2 separate regions of the Homo sapiens genome follow, and region 2 is linked to region 1. The links come from fine-mapping of genetic effects on gene expression. Tissue or cell type: whole blood. Region 1 holds a variant in brackets; the other region holds the start of a gene. All regions are shown on one strand. Distances are between the middles of the regions.

Region 1 (5,501 bases):
CAGCTCCCACACAACCCAAAGGGCCAGTCTCACTTCCACTGTGCCCCCACTCAACAGCACCAAGTCTGTTTCCAGGCAGTGGGTGACCAGGGCTGAGAACCTGCCCCAGGCTACCTGCCTCCCAGCTGCAAAAATAAGTAGGGCTTTCTTTCTTCCCCAGCCTGTGGAGTCTGCACGCTGGATTCATGCCCTCCCCCGAGTTCTGGCCAGGAGACTCTTCGATTGGTTCAAATTGTTACAAATTTCAGGGGGAGGTTTCCTTTTCTCTGTGGCCTTCTCTGAGTGCCTCTGGTAGCCCTCCTCAAGGACCCCTTGTGAGGTGAGGCACAAATGGCTTGGTAGGGGACCCAGCTAGTCCACAGGGATTTTCCTGCTGCTTCCTTTACCCGTGTATTTCGCTTTCGCTCAGCTCTCTAAATTGACTAAGCTCCAGATAAGGTCAGAATCTTCTCCCGTAATCTAGACCTTTAGGTTCCCCGGTGGTGGGGTGTGTGTTCAGGGGTGGACGATCTGCCTTTCCCACTTCCACAGTTTGAGCACTCACAGTATTTGGGGTGTCTCCCAGGTCCTGCAGGTGCAATCACTTCCTTCAGAGGGTCTGTGGGTTCTTTTGGCTTTCCTAATGTATTGCTGCAGTTTTGGAGCAAAAGTTCATGAGGCGAGCCTCCACACGCTGTTCTGTCTGTCCCCGTTCCTTTTATTTCCCAACCACATTTGATCTAACTTTTGATTATTACTGAGTGAGGGGATAATGAAGTCTGTAGACACTGTGATCTGTAATTTTTTTTTTTTTTTGAGATGGAGTTTCACTCTTGTCGCCCAGGCTGGAGTGCAATGGCATGATCTCAGCTCACTGCAACCTCCGCCTCCTGGGTTCAAGTGATTCTCCTGCCTCAGCCTCCCGAGTAGCTAGGATTACAGGTGTGCACCACCGTGCTTGGCTAGTTTTTGTATTTTTAGTAGAGACAGCGTCCAGGCTGGTCTCAAACTGCTGACCTCAGGTAATCCACCTGCCTCAGCCTCCCACAGTGCTGGGAATATAGGCATGAGCCACTGCGCCCAGCCTCTAATCATTTTTTTAAAAAGCAGATCCTCTTACTTGCTTTCACATTTTCCTTTATGCAAGGCAAGTTGCAATCTATGGACAAATTTAAGTTTTCTTCTTTTAGATTCTCTAGCCTTATTGGCAAATAATTAGAAGAAAAGCAAAGGAGGAGAAAATATAAATCATAATGAAGTAGTGATTGGATAATGTTCCTCAAGAATATGATTAATTATCCCTCTCTCCACCCCATTTAATTAGACACCAGATGAAAATGGAAAAATATTTCCTTGCATTCTTTTCTATTAATGACCAAATGAAGAGACTACCTGCCCCCTCAATGCAAGGGCTCAGAGTTGTATGTGTTTGTAGAATAAAAAAGTAGTTAAGCAACCCAGGACTTGTTTTCCTTTTCATTCACTATGTTCTTTATGAATAACAATTTTTTTTGGTAATCAGATATCAGATAAATGGACTATTTTGGAAGTTCAGGGAACTTAATGTAGAAATGCATTGCATAGGTAATTACAATGTTTTGTGTCTATGTTGAAGCCTATACTATAACTTTATAAGTTAGGAAAATATAATACCTTGGGCATTTAGTCCTATCATCTGTCTTTCTGACAGATCTGACTTTGTGGGAAAAAGCCATTTGTTATCTCTTAGTCGAAGACAATGAAGAATGTTTTTTACTCTGTCACAAGGTGGCAGCAAATGTCAAAATTTTATACTTACATAATACCTGTATCTAAGATAATCTGTTTTTTCTTTTAAGTTAGGAACCTATTTGAAATTACTGCATTGATAAAGTATATGGGATGTAATACTGTAGGCACCTTAGAATACTAGACTATTCCAACTGAAACATGAGTAAATATTGGAACCATTTTACAGGAATTGATAACTTCAGTATAAGTAGTTATATAACTTTTAGTGATATATATCAGTATTACTTTTCTGGTTTTAAAGATAACATCAAAGTTTTCCATTTCAACTGTAGGGAAAAAGGAATAATCACAGTTTTAGCAGTAGTAGACATGCTGAGGATGCTTATTGAAAGGAAAGAACTGCAGCTGGAAGAGCACTATATTCCATACTTGGGTGGCAAAATATGTAACGTGGCACTTTGTATAAACAAGCATCACCAGATGTTTATTGATGAAATCAAAGCAGCAGCGTTGTCTGGGGTATATACCCTGGGGTTCGTTGTCGCGCACCAGGAAAATTTAGAACACGGACACACACAAGTTGTTTAGGAGCAGAGGTTCAATAGAGAGGAGAGAAAGAGAAACAGCTTCCTCTATAGAGGAAGGCATCTCCAAGTGGAAAGGACTGGCTGGCAGCGAATGTGTCGAGTTTTATAGTCTAGTTTGAGAAGGTGGTGTCTGATTTACATAGGGCTCATAGATTGCTTCAGTCAGGTATGATATTTACATAGTGGCATAGGGAAGTCTGGTCGCCCCACCTTAATCTTCTTATACAAATGGTCTTTCCAGTTGTCTGGGGCCATCTTGTCTGCTCCTTACAGCACACATGGCTGGCAGAGAAGGGAAGACAGAGC[G/A]GCCATCTTGGAAACGTCTAGTCCTTAGTTCCTGCCGGTACGTGCACCCTTGCAGCTTGCAGGCTGCTCTTTGTTAGAAAAAGATTTGGGGCTGCTTTTCACTAAAAAGAAAAACCTTACCGAGGACTCCCCATACCCTTGCTATCTGCCTAAGTGATTTCTTCTTCACTCCTATATCAAAATGATTAAAATAAAGGATAAGAGAACTTTGATAGGAAGTCACTTAGCAGGTCTGATTTGGGAAGAAATAAGGGTTTATATTTGTTTATATGCTCATACAAAATTCAAGTATTAATATCCTTTAATGTAAGAATTTAAAATTTGTGAAGAAATATCAGTGTACATTCTACACATTTTTACTGGGTACATACTGTGTAACAGACATTGTGCAAGGCAGTGGGATATAGTGGTGATAAGACAGACTTAAGGCCGGGCGCGGTGGCTCACGCCTGTGATCCCAGCACTTTGGAAGGCTGAGGCAGGCAGATCACGAGGTCAGATCAGGACCATCCTAGGGCTAACATGGTGAAACCCTGTCTCTACTAAAGATAGAAAAAATTAGCCGGGCATGGTGTCACGTGCCTGTCGTCCCAGCTACTCGGGAGGCTGAGGCAGGAGAATCGCCTGAACTCGGGAGAGGAAGGTTGCAGTGAGCCGAGATCACGCCACTGCACTCCAGCCTGGGCAACAAGAGCAAGACTACATCTCAAATATACAAAAGCAAAAAAAAAAAAGACAGACTAAATCTTGCCTATATTATCAGATTGTTAACACTAAATCTAAAGTGATAAGTTATTACATCTATGAGAAGTAATCAAGAATCTTTGAAAATATACAAATTAATTTCAGTATTAAAAACATTTGGTGATAAAATATTAAAATACCACATTCACAATTTTAATCATATGATGAAGTAACATTTAGGCTATATCCTAAATTGATACACAAAGATTCCTTCTTTGATCTAGTATGATACTAAATTTTATCTTTTATTAGAATTTATTCTTTCGAGTTGTATGGTGCTTATTTTATTTAGTGTTTGATCTCTTTCCACACAGTGATTTATAATATTTTAGAGAACTTTACACGTTTTATTATAGAGCAAGTAGGAATTTCTGCTTGAGATTCTACTGTGTGTTTTCTTAGGCTGAAAAGAAATTATAATGTTTAGACAGGATAGGTATCTGAAGTCCTGGATGAGTTTCACATGTGTCATTTATTCACATGCATATTTAAGGTACTGCAGGTGCTGGAAAATCAATGATAAATAAACAGACATAGTCCCTGCTCTCAAGGAGTTGTCTTGGTAGAGACAGACGTTGATCAGATAATGAATAGTATATAATTACATAAGGAGATAAGGAAAAGAGCATGGTTCTATAATAGCATATGTCAAGGGAACCTGATGTAGATCACTGTGTCAGAGAAGGCTAGTCCTTGAAGTTGTACACGGTAAGAAAGATTTAATTCTGCAAAAGGTTGGTGGGGGTAAGCTGGTACCAAAATATTTGAGTTTTGAAAAGATATCTCTAGCATTAGTGTAGACACACTGAATTCAAAGAGGCGAATTAGAAGCCTATTGTAGTTATCCAGGAGGAACGACAACTTGAGTAGTGGCAGTAAAGAGAAATGGACAGTAATTAGATATATTAAAAATTCAGGTGGTAAAATTGAAAGAACATGCTGATTAATCAATAGGCATGAAGGGCCTTGGGAATGGAGAGGTATGAAAGATGATGCTTTGTTTTTTGAGTTGCACAAGAGCAGCAACGTTCACCAACAAACAGAAAAGAAACCATATATGGTTTTAGACTTGTTGAGTTTGAGGAGGTTTCCGTTCAAAGGAAAACAGAGAAGGTAGTAAGGATATATGGGTCTGGAACTTCAAGGAGTTTGGGCCAAAGACATAAATTTAGGATTCATTAGATTGTCTATGGTTATTGAGGTTGTGTAGGACAGGAGTGAAGAAAAACAAGAGAAGGCAGCTTAAGCTGAGCCTTGAGGGACCTCCAACTCTACTGGCTGAAGAGCCTGCAAAAGGGAACAAAAAGGAGAAGCTAGAAAGGAAGGGAAAAGGCCAACAGGGAATGGTGTTGCAAAGATCAAGGGAAGAGAGTGTTTAAGCAGGAGTGTTTCATGCTGAGAGGTTAAAATAAGAATGGGATAGAAAAATACTGAAGATCCTAAGCAAATGCATTTTCTACAATTAGTAATTACAAATGTGCATTTTCCTTTTATTTAGGCACATCTACTATGCTTCTTACTAGAATAAACTGTGCAGATTGGTCTGATGTATGTACTAAGCAAAATGTTACTGAATTTCCTATCATAAAGATGTACAAGAAAGGCGAGAACCCAGTATCTTATGCTGGAATGTTAGGAACCGAAGATCTCCTAAAATTTATCCAGCTGTAAGTATTCAGCTTCATTATAAGATCTCTGAATGTTTAGGTCTTTAGAAGTTCTAATTCTCAGACTTTGCTAACACTTAAAATAGGTTAAGGAAGATACTAGAATTGAGATCACAAAATGAATATTTATGAAAGTCTGTGTACATTTCAACACTTTTCGGGAGATAGCAATTTTGTTTAATGAGTCTGATTTTCTTTAAGAATAATATTTAATTTTCTATATTTTGTAAGATATTATCCTATGTAATATATTGTTTGCTATGTTTAGTATGCTTTTTTTTTACAAACTGAAAATATCTTAAAAAATTAATTTGTAATATAGTTATATGTTTATCCAGCAACAGGATTTCATATCCAGTGAATATAACATCGATCCAAGAAGCAGAAGAATATTTAAGTGGGGAATTATATAAAGACCTCATCTTGTATTCTAGTGTGTCAGTATTGGGACTATTTAGTCCAACCATGAAAACAGGTAAGCAGAGCT
Region 2 (5,501 bases), 80 kb before region 1:
ATTTTACAGTGAATCATTCATATTATTTTGTAAATCAAAATATATAGGGAAAAAACAAGTCATCTGATGCCCCTGGCATAAAAATCGCTAGTCACTTTCAGGTAAACATCTGAACCTGGAGTAAAAGCTTCAGCGTTGAGAAGTCACTAACGCACTATCTGAAATGGTGGCAGGAAGATTACAATGTATCAGTTTAAGTATAAAGGGTAGAAGTGTTATAACAGCTTAAACGACAACTAGATTAGAACACCCTCAAATAAGTGACACGACTATGGCATCATTTGATTTGTGATAACCTATGCTTCTTATTTCCGCTTACTGGTTTGCGTTTTTGTCATTGTATTGTTTGGACTTTCAAAGGATGGAGAAGGAAAATAATAAAAGTTAAATTAGTTTTGTTGTTTTCAACTATTGTTTTTAGTGTGCTAAATAGCTGACATTATGACTGATTATAAAATTATGCATTCTACTTCCTATTAAAGGAGAAAAGAGTTGGTTTATGCAGGAAATATAAACACTTAATATACGTCATTTTTTTTTTTTTTACTTTTGCTTGGAACTACATTAATTCCATCACCTCCAAAAAAGCCTTTGAGAGGATTAGCTGCATAGGCCAATATTATTCTATATTAGTCTGTATTAAGCATATGATGTCACCTTGCTTCCTCCCCTCCTCAAGCTTTTCTTTTGGTGGGAAGGAGGACTTTTTTGGGGGAAAGTCTTAAAATATTATGGCTTAAATACCACAAGCTGACACACATGATTGACAACCTTACACTCCCAAACCTGTTTGAAATGGGTCAAATACCTAAGCGCTGCAGAACAATGCAATCCAACCAGCAATTCCCCATAAAAGAGAAAGGGGGTGTGATTAGGTTCCAGATATTAAGCAAGTTATTGCAAAAACAGTTTGGTGGTTTTGTTTCTGCAATAGGCACAGGTTAAGCTAGTATTTTTTTCTCTTAATTAGCTCCAAAAAAGACTATGCTAATAGGAGGTAGGATAAACCGCTAAAGCACGAAGCAACTGGGGCAAACATTAAGGGCTTTATGGAGGTCCTTATCCTGATCCTCAGCATTGGTTATTGATCATCAACCCTGCTGGGGAACTATCGAACGAAATTTATGTGAGGCTTATCGAGCCACAGGAAAGGAGATGCAGGAGGGAATATAAGCTTCTAATAAAAGAAACGCAGCAACAATAGCAGAGGAACAGCTCTGCCTGGTGACGTAATGGCTGGCAGCAGTCCAGCTTCAGCAGAGCTGCTGCTACCTCAGCATCCAACCTCCCTCAACACAGTCCGGCTTCGGCAGAGCCACCGGGGCTGCTACTTCTTGCGATGCCACTTTGTTGGTGCCACCAACGCCTTACCTCGGAGGGCCAGAACACCGAACAAAGGGTTCGTTCCGTTGCTGTTTTAAGTTGTCAGACACACACACTCACTCACTCACCCCCTAGCCCGAACCCCTCAGTAATCAAGCCAATCAGCCACTTAAGTTTAAGGCGAAAACACTGGCTCACACTCCAGGTGTGCCTCAGTTTCCCCAGGCTGGTTTCCAGTCCGCCTCTCGCTGCCCACCCCCCGCCCCCGCTGGTCCTCAGCGGGAGTTGATCCCGGCGGCCCCGCGCACCCGCCCGGGCCCCGCATGCCGGCCCTCCCGCCTTACCTCCGCCAGGTAGAGGTTGAGGAGACAGAGCGTGGAGAACTGGAGACAGGAGGGGAAGCAGTAGAGCAGCCAGTGGGGGAAGAAGTGCAGGTGAGCGGGCGGCCGGAGCAAGGGCAGGGAGCCGCTGAGCGAGAAGGCGGCGGAGAAGAGGGTGGTCCTGAGCGCTGCCCACAGGAGACAGAGGAAGAGGCAGAGGCTCTGGTAACTCAGCCGCCGCTCGCGGTACAGGAGCAGCCGCCACAGCTGCAGGTAGGCAAAGGCGAACAGCGCGGCGTAGAGCAGGGCGTGCAGGACGCTCAGCGCCAACTGCACGGAGCCCGGCACCGCGGCGCCTGAGGCTGCAGCGACGGCGCCTCCGCCTCCGCTGCCCCCGCCGGGCGTGGAGGGCTCGCGGCCGGCTGCGGGGGCGGCAGCGGCCGCCGGACCCGGCACGGACACCCTCATGAGGGGGCTGGGGGCCGGGCGAGCGAGCGCGGGAAGGAAGGGGCTGGACTCGGAGCCGCCGTCGAAGGGGAGAAGGACTGCCCCCTTACCCCCCACCCACCCCAGCCTCTAACCCCAGGAAGCGCCGTGACGGGACCCGGAGTCCAGCGCAAAGCAGCCGCGGCTCCCCCGGACCCCGCCTCCTCTTTCCCCCCACCCCCCGGGGGTCTCGGCTCCTCCTGCTGCGGCTCGGCTCCGTAGCTGCAAAAAACAACTCTCGGCTGGAGACAATCAGCTGAGAAACCCGAGCATTTGAGGCGCTCGCTCCGCACTGTGGGCTCGCGCCGATTGGCCCAGGCAGGCACGCCCCCTGAGCGCCGCGCTCGGAAGGCCACGGGCCGCAGGACCCGTCGCTCGAGGGCCCCGAGATCTGATTGGGCGCGTAATTTCCCTACTTTCTCCCGCCCCTGTACTTCCCACCCACGCTGCTGATTGGCCCTGCTACTGCACCGCCCGTTCGCGCCGGCGGGAGGACTCTGTAATCGTCTGTCACTCTCGCTCCGCCCACCACGTTTCCCATTGGTTAGAGAGTGCCTCGCGTAGGGAGCACGAGGAGAAGGAGGAGCTTCGCAGGTTGTTTTTTCCCAGGAGGCCGACTCCGCCGAGTCGGTGGCGGCTGCAGGCTGGGAGGGAGAAGTGCTACGCCTTTGCAGGTTGGCGAAGTGGTTCCAGGCTACCCGGCTAGTCTGGCACGGCCCCGTCTTCTGCCTCCTCCTCCGTCGCGTGGCGGCGGGAACTGTTGGCCGCGCGGCCTCGGGAACGGCCCAGGTCCCCGCCCGCAGGTCCCGGGCAGGTAGGTGACAGCGCTGGCCCTTCAGGCTGTGGGCTCTGCCTGCAGACCCGGGGATTCAGACGAAGCAGCTTTCTGTAGCCAGGGCTGCACTGCACAGCTCCGGAGTCTGACTTAAGACACCCGTCTCTGGGGCACCGAAGGGCCTCACCTGGAGCCTCCTGAGGGCATTTTGCTTTCTCTTTTCGCTGCATGAACGGCGGGAAACACCGGAGCCCTTTGTGGGTCGAGGGGATGGAAAGGGGCGACGGGGAGAATCGGAGCTCTTAAGTGAAAGACCCTTTCCTCCCAAGGCCAAGGGAAATGTCTCTTAAGGAAGAGTAGTAGTAGTATCAGATGGATGTTGAAGCGATCTGTGAGCAGGGGGAAGCTGGTTCTTTCAAACGTAGAATTTGGGAAGATGCTCTGGGCTTAAGTTTTGGGAAAAAGGCAGAAACAGACTTGTAAGTATGATGATTGCCTGGAGAGGAAGTAGAATATTCTGTACTGTTTAAATTCCACATGTATCGAAGCCTTGGACCTGTGTATGGTAGATGGTGGCGCTATTCCTGGGCCTGAGAGAGAAAATACATGCTGTGTTACTGCTGTGAAGAACCGAGGAATAATCAGATCGACTAACGTATATTGGGCCGGCACATAGTTGTTGACTTTTTTTTTTCCTATTTGGAAATAAGATTAGCAAGTAGTGCAAAATTAAAAGGAAATAATTTGTTTTCTTTAGAATACACAGCACATTACGAATTCAGTATCCTTGTGAAAGACATTGCTACGTTTATTGGAGCAACAAAGACCCAGCTTTTCTTACCTCACCATCCTTTGTCCTATGCTTTTTTTTTTTTTTTTCCTTTTTTTCATGCAGGGTCTCGCTCTGTCGCCCAGGCTGTAGTGACAGTTCACTACAAACCTCCACCTCCTGGGCACAAGCAGTCCTCCCACCTCAGCCTCCCAAGTAGCTGGGACTACAGGCACTGGAGCCACCATGCCCGGCTGATTTTTTTTTTTTTTTTGGTAGAGACGAGGTTTCACTATATTGTCCAGGCTGGCCTTTGTCATATGCTTTGCCCAAGAAGAGTGTTGCTGTCTTTTTTCCTAGCTAAGTATTCCACAGGGAACTTTAAAGTCTATTTTGTAGATTCTGGGACAGTCGTTTGTCCAGGTACCAGATGCTAGTGTGGTTTGAGTTCTTTATAGGTATGCTGACAAACTGTGGTAGATGTACAGGCCTAGCACTGTTACCTAGACATCCCTCAGATGAAACGTTCAGCTGAGCAGGTAGAGAGTGCAGTGTATGAGAGGGTACGGCTTGCTCTAAGAAGTTAACAGGCCTAATCCAACATCTATGCTTTGGAGAAGGATTTTATGTTTATTGGAACCTAAGAAGTTCATCTCATGTATTTTTAGAGAATGTGGTCAGGGCGGTACACAATTCTCTTCAAATAGGAGACAGGATGCTCATGACAGCAGTGATGTAATTGATTGCAGTAATGTGCTTAAGTATTTAAATTGAGCATAAAATCAGAGTTGTGTGATTTTAGGCACTTGTCAAAATCAAGGGCGCCACATATTCTCTGCCATGGCCTATTTGCATCTTCCATAATCATTGAGGTGCACATTTCAAGTCATCAATAGACTTTAAAAGGTTTTTCTTTTTCTCCTCTATTCTCTGCTCAAAGTGATAGTAAACATCTGGATAGTACCCATACTAATTTTAGGTCTTGGCCTGTGAGGCTTACCTGCCACCTGCCATGTGTCAGTAAGAGCAAGTCTGGATAGCTGCCTCCTTTCTCTTTTTTGGGGGATGGGAGTGTGTGTTTAGAGGTGGGCGGTGAGGGTGCAGGTAGAGGATTTTCCTCCCAACTGCTTTGAAAAGGCTCTAAAGGGGAGAGATGTTGACTCCTTTTATTGCCTCCTTGGGTCTGAAATGATAAACTGTGTTGAGATCTGATCAACATTTTATTTGAGGCTGGTTCAGTGAGCAGGTTCTGTTCTCCAGTAGCAGCATTAAACTGTAAGTAAGCTGACTTCAGACAGAATGTTCTTATGGGAACTTTGTAAGCGTTATATACTCCATTTGTTGCAAAATATGAAGTGTGTCTTTTTCCTGAGTATGATGGCCACAGATGTTGCTACAATTTATTTAATAGTTACAGTTGTTAATTTCCTTCTTTTCTGAGAGGAAAAGCCATTAATTTTATGGTTAATCATAAGGGAATATTAGGCCTATAAAGGGGGAACTAACCAAGGGTTTCCTAGAAAAGCTTGGTGTCAGCTATTCTAAAATTTAAATGTGTCCAAATGCATAAAGATTTAATATTGTTGTTCTGAGAGGACAGATGACCCTAGCACAGTAGTCTTTCAAACATTTAAAAGCAGAACTGTTTGGGTCGGGCATGGTGGCTCACGCCTGTAATCCCAGCACTTTGGGAAGCCAAGGTGGGCAGATCACGAGGTCAGGAGATCAAGACCATCTTGGCTAACACAGTGAAACCCCGTCTCTACTAAAAATACAAAACATTAGCCAGGTGTGGTGGCGGGCGCCTGTAGTCCTAGCTACTTGGGAG

What was found. PIP is the estimated chance that this variant, and not a neighbour inherited with it, causes the effect.
Region 2: it holds the start of TXNDC16, and the variant in region 1 is fine-mapped to the expression of TXNDC16 in whole blood (TOPMed, PIP above 0.99).

Annotation. Positions count from the first base shown.
Region 1 is chr14:52,470,025-52,475,525 of GRCh38, reverse strand. TXNDC16 (thioredoxin domain containing 16) reads left to right here. Exons shown (of 21, transcript NM_020784.3): 15 at 4,846-5,014; 16 at 5,353-5,489. Among named protein-coding and RNA genes, the nearest start is that of TXNDC16, 80 kb to the left of the region's middle. The variant G/A (reference allele first, on the strand shown) is at 2,604.
Region 2 is chr14:52,549,758-52,555,258 of GRCh38, reverse strand. TXNDC16 (thioredoxin domain containing 16) reads left to right here and starts at 2,754. Exons shown (of 21, transcript NM_020784.3): 1 at 2,754-2,943. It overlaps GPR137C (G protein-coupled receptor 137C), which reads right to left and starts at 2,423. Exons shown (of 7, transcript NM_001099652.2): 1 at 1,668-2,423. The coding sequence starts at 2,111. RefSeq lists silencers at 1,954-2,153, 2,164-2,233.